Regions from separate parts of the Homo sapiens genome. Here region 2 is linked to region 1. The links come from fine-mapping of genetic effects on gene expression. A gene starts in region 1. The other region holds a variant in brackets. All regions are shown on one strand. Distances are between the middles of the regions. Region 1 holds the start of PFN2 (profilin 2). Region 2 overlaps TM4SF18-AS1 (TM4SF18 antisense RNA 1).

The links.
Region 2: its variant is fine-mapped to the expression of PFN2 in fetal neocortex (Walker 2019, PIP 0.95).

Annotation. Positions count from the first base shown.
Region 1 is chr3:149,969,655-149,972,567 of GRCh38, forward strand. PFN2 (profilin 2) reads right to left here and starts at 1,241. Exons shown (of 3, transcript NM_053024.4): 1 at 1,071-1,241. The coding sequence starts at 1,202. It overlaps LOC646903 (a long non-coding RNA gene), which reads left to right and starts at 1,625. Exons shown (of 1, transcript NR_036538.1): 1 at 1,625-2,913. RefSeq lists silencers at 437-696, 717-766, 777-1,016, 1,227-1,306, 1,537-1,596 and enhancers at 1,442-1,973, 1,974-2,504.
Region 2 is chr3:149,299,699-149,302,611 of GRCh38, forward strand. The region is part of intron 1 of TM4SF18-AS1 (TM4SF18 antisense RNA 1); the gene reads left to right. Among named protein-coding and RNA genes, the nearest start is that of TM4SF18-AS1, 16 kb to the left of the region's middle. The variant G/A (reference allele first, on the strand shown) is at 1,357.

The DNA.
Region 1 (2,913 bases):
AAAGGGAGCGTGGTGCTAAGAAATAAAGAGAATGGTCTCGTATTTAGTACAATTATCATAATTTTAGAAACAGCCTTGGGCAGAAACAGGCAAAACAATAAGCTGGAGGTTTTGTGGCAAATATTCTCCAAACATATTGCAACCAACTCAAAACCATCAAGTCTCAAGAAAATCAGGCAATGTGAAGCATAAAACTGCATTAGTTCCTTTACTGCCACCACTAAAGAGGGAGGGACTTAGAGAAGTGAAGTGTGCTCCTGGTCTTCGCAGATAATTGAAAGCCCCCGAAAAGCACCCCTTTTTTGAGCTATGTTGCATAACTGGGGATAACCGTATATCGATGAATCTCCATATGAGAAGAGAAATCAATGGCAGTTCGCCATCTTGGAGAATTTAAAAAAAAAAAAAAAACAACCTATAGAGCTAGAGCTGAAGTCGAGATTCACGAATCCACCTACGCGGTCGGCGTACATCTCTCGCAAGCCCCAGAGGCCTGGACATCGGTAAACCTACGCAAAGTCGCTTCGAGAATCCCGGGGGCCGGGCCGGGGCCGCCGCCTCCCACAGCCGGAGGCGCGGGAGGCGCGCTGTCCGCGGAGCAAGAGCCGGCCAGAGAGCCTAGGGACCTCCACCCGGGGCCCGCGCGCCCCAGCCCGGATCCCCGACCCCCGCTTCCACCCCAGAACGTGCATAGCAAACCTCAGGGCTTCAAGAGAACCTAGGGGAACCGCACTAGGAGGAAAAAAGGAACCCCTCCCCTTGCCCTGGCCGGTGCGTGCCCCCTCCCCCAACCCGGGCACCTGGACCGACGCTGGGAACGCCGGGGGCGCCCGGCCAGGGCCAGCAAGGAGTCCGGCCGCCGCCCCCAGCCTGTCAGCGCAGCCCCGGGTGAGGGGGCGTCCCCGGGCCTCGGCCTCCCCGCCCGCCCGGCAGCCGCATCCTCGGCGCCCGCTGCCTAGCACACCTGCGGGCTCGGCCCTCAGTGTTCCAGCCCCGCGCTGCGGTGCCCCCGCGGCCGGCCACCCCGCTCCGGTGCAGGGACCAGGGTACCGGCCGCCACTGGTCCTCACCGTAATGCTCTGAAAGACGCCCCCGGCCGTGGCTGCCCAGACGTATTTGGCGTCGCAGTAGCCGACAATGGCGGCCTCCTGGCAGCAGCCATCGCACATCAGGTTATCCACGTAGCTCTGCCAACCGGCCATCTTCGAGCCCTTCGCACTGCAGCGCGGACGGCGAGGAGCAGCAGGCGCAGCGGCGGCGGCGGCGGTAGCGGGCGGCGGCGGCGCGGGGGGAGGCGGGGCGGGGGCGGGGAGGAGGCGGCTCTGCGCAGGCACCGACCGCCCCCCTCCCCGAGGAGCTGCGGCGGGAGGACGCGGGTTCAGCGATGAGGGACGAACCTCAGAGCGCGCTCGGCCGCCCGGCCGCCCGCAGCCGCGGGGCTGACAAACCAGCGGCGGGAGGCTGCGAAGCGGCTGTGCCTGTGGCGGCTGCTCCTTACCGCAGCGCCCTCCGTTTTCCGCGGACACGGCTGGGCGTGCGCGCGCGCGTGCGTGCGATCCTTCCGCGGCGCCCGGGCACGGAGGGTCCCGGGAAGGGCGGGGGGAGACTGAGGCGGGGGCGCGGAGGGATACCGCCCCGGGACAATCACGGCCGCCACGTGCGGGAGGCGCCGGCCGGGAGCGGTGGCGGGCCGAGCTTCGGACCTCGGGCCGGCGGAGAGGGTGGACCCCGCGTCGCTCTCGGCACCCCAGGAACAGCGGCGGCACGGACGCCTTGGAGCCCCGCGGCCGGGCCGCGATGTGCTTTTCTCCTGTGTTCGCTGCCCGGGATGCGGAATCTTGAGCCTCGGTGTCGGGTTACAGAGTTGTCCTGGTGACGGGATGCGGAGCGTTTCCTCCTTTTTGTTGTGGGGGCGGCTGGTGGCAGGGGCAGCTGGTGGCAGGGTTGCCCACGCTAATCTCCGAGTCTCTAAGGGCACCGTCTTTCCTGGATCCCTCTTGCGCCTCGTCCATAAAGGCAGACCCGCGGGCGCGCGCCGGCAACCTGAAATCAGAGCAGGCGTCCGTGGCGCTCAGGAACCTTGCTGAGCTTCGCCGATCTTTCATTGTTGCTTCATTTGGGTACCAAGGGCCTCTCATTCTGTGGATTCTTTGCCTGGAGGAGCCCCCTTAATGTTGCTAATCACGTGTGGTTAAATTGCTCGTAAATTCCGAACAAAACAAATAGCGACCTGTGTTACACTGTTTCTTGGTAACTGGGAAAGTTACTGGTGGCTTGAAGTATACGCAGAAAATACAAAGATTAAAAACTAGGGAAGAGTTCACTGAATGAACACCGTAACATTTCTGCTCTGCAGGGTAAAATAATTTCGGGACCCAGGTCTGGGAAAGATTTGTATTAACAAGGTAAACGGTGGGTAGAGTGCCTGAGAAGCTATTCGTATCGTCTTTGGTAGCCTCTGGGCACTAGGACTAGACATGGAATTAGGGGTCCCCCAACAATGACTTCAATTTTAGGTTAATAGAAACCATCTGCCACTTAAGGGAAAGAAAGCACCAAAATGTAGATAAGTTGATGTTCACCCTTAAAGTTATCGTGTGAGGTCATGATTTGTAGGAGGATTAAGGAATGTATCTCTGGAAAGGGCAAGAACGTTGCTTTTAAAAGTCTAATTGGTTCTGAAGTTTTATATTTTTTCTGCTGATTGCTTTAAAATGTTCAGCTACTAGAGAGAAAAAAAGTACAGTAAAAGAAACCCCCAAGTCAGAGACCTATCAGACTGAGAATATGTATTTTCTCATGTTCTAAAGATACAGAATACCTGTGTGGTGTAAAATGTGAACCAAAAATTGTTTCATTTTTGTAAGTGTGCCTCCCACCTGATTTAATTACACTTAATTGTTCTTGTTTATG
Region 2 (2,913 bases), 670 kb before region 1:
TTTGCTTCATGAGAGTAACAAATATACTGACACAATAAATATGGAAATATATTTGTATCACATGGGAAGAAATGTTTAAATGGAGACTAATATCATAAGTGGTCACTTCTAAGAAACACTCCATTCTCATGTAATTATATTTATAGTAAAAATCATAGAAGACAATGCAGATACAAATCTGACAACTAAGAAAATTGTAAAAATTATGGAATAGTTTTAAAACTTTTTCCTTGAATGTTGGCTCTTTAAACAAAGAAGCCTTAATCAGAGAAATTTACGCATAAGCATGTGATTCTGAATGAGCCTTTTCAAGGACTTTATGTATGAGTATTTGACTTTTGAGGTTAATAGAATCAATTCTTTAATATGGGTTGAGAAATAAAAATAAAGTCCTAAGCTTCTCCAACTGACTGAACACACCATCTCTTGGCCCAGGGGACTCCAGAGAAACCTTAGAAACTGAGTTCCTGGCCATGATGGGCTAGCAGGTCGAACATGCCTCAGTATGCCCCATTCCTTCTAACCTTTAACCAGAATTCTTTCCTAAGGCGTAAGTAAGCAGAAACCAGCTCTGGAAAATGAGAAATGGATGACTCATTACTTTGTCAACTTTAGCCAGTCCTCTGAGGCTGCCACAGGACTCCCTTTCCCACATTGCAGTTTCAACATGACAGCTCACCAGTTAAACCATAAATCCCTTCCTGATAAGAGACCAACAACCATGAAGTGGTTCTGGCCAATCTATGCAGGGTGCACAGCCAGGGCATTTGTGTCCTCCCCTTCATCTTTTGACATTAGGGGGCTGAAAACTCCACTCTCAGATCATGCTAATGCCACAATTTTTTGTACAGGGAATTCATGAAGAGGCATAAAGCTCAATTGTGAAGCACATGTTTCTCCTTTAATAAATATTCATGACTCCTCCTACAGCCTAATAAAAAGGTATTTTCAGCCACTCTGCTCAGCATAAATTCCCGTTTCTTTCAGCACTACCTTGAAGTGCCTGTTTCTGGCTTCTGGCCAGAGGTTACACTTCCCAGCGTGTCAGAATGGCCACCCTGCAGGTTGCAGCCTTTTGTGAGAAATAAAGCTGTCCTTTCCAAATGTATGAACCTTGTGATTCTTCAGCTGACAGGGTAATTCATCTGAAAAACGTAGTTTTTCTTCTTGGAAGTGGACTTCCAATATCATGATGCTAAAAACATGTCATACTGTAATAAGAGCTGTTTTGTACTTTTACAGAAGGAATTTTTAAAAATTTATTTTTAGTTTTTGTGGGTACATAGTAGGTGTATATATTTGTGGGGTACATGAGATATTTTGACACAAGTATGCAATGCATAATAATCACATTAG[G/A]GTAAATGAGGTATCCATTACCTCAAGCATTTATCTTTTGTGTTATAAACAATCCAGTTGTACTCTTTTCATTATTTTAACATGTACAATTAAATTATTACTGACTATAGTCACCCTGTTGTGCTATCAAATAGTAGGTCTTATTCATTCTTTCTAACCATTTTTTGTACCTATTAACAATCCCCACTTGCTCTCCACTACCCCTGCCCCAATACCTTTCCCAGCTTCTGGTAACCATCCGTCTGCCCTCTATCCCTGTGAATTCAATTGTTTCACTTTTTAGCTCCCACAGATAAGTGAGAACATGTACAGTTTGTCTTTCTGTGCCTGGCTTAATTCACTTAACATGATGGCCTCCAGTTCCATCCATGTTGTTGCAAATGACAGGATCTCATTCTTTTTAAAAATATATGTAACATTTTCTTTATCCATTTGTTTGTTTATGGACACTTAGGTTGGTTCCAAGTCCTGGCTATTGTGAACAATGCTGTAGGTATCTCTTCGATATACTGATTTCCTTTCTTTTGGGTATATACCTAGAAGTGGGTTTGCTGGATCATATGGTGACTCTATTTTAGTTTTTGAGGACCCTCCAAACGGTTCTCCATAGTGCTTGTACTAATTTACATTCCCACCAACCGTGTATGAGGATTCCCTTTACTCCACATCCTTGCCATCATCTGTTATTGCCTGTCTTTTGAATAAAAACCATTTTAACTGGAATGAGATGATATCTCACTGTAGTTTTGATTTATGTTTCTCTGATGATCAATGATGTTGAGCATCTTTTTATATACCTGTTTGCAATTTGTATCTCTTCTTTTGAGAAATGTCTGTTCAGACCTTTTGGCCATTTAAAACATTAGATTATTAGATTTTTTCCTATAGAGTTGTTTGAACTCCTTATATATTCTGGTTATTAATCTCTGTCAAATGGGTACTTTTCAAATGTTTTCTCCCATGCTGTGGGTTGTCTTTTCACCTTGTTGATTGTTTCCTTTGTTATGCAGCAGGTTTTTAACTTGATGTGATCCCACTTGCCCATTTTTGCTTTGGTTGCCTGTGCTTGTGGAATATTACACAAGAAATCTTTGCCCAGTCCAATATTCTGGGGGGAGAGTTTCCCCCAATATTTTTTAGTAGTTTCATAATTTTAGTTCTTAGATTTAAATCTTTAATCCACTTTTATTTTATTTTTGTATATGGTGAGAGATATCATTCTAGTTTCACTCTTCTGCATATGCATATCCAGTTTTCCCAGCATCATTTATTGAAGAGACTGTCCTTTCCCCAATGTATGTTCTTGGTACTTTTGTTGAAACTGAGTTCACTGTAGATGTATCATTTTGTTTCTGGGTTCTCTGTTCTGTTCCATTGGTCTATGTGTCTGTTTTTATGCTTGTACCATGCTATTTTAGTTACTACAGCTCTGTAGTATAATTTGAAGTCAGGTAATGTGATTCCTCCAGTTTTGTTCTTTTGTGCTCAGGATAGTTCTGGCTATTCTGAGTCTTTAGTGATTTATAAATTTTAAGTTTGTTTTTTTTTTTCTATGTC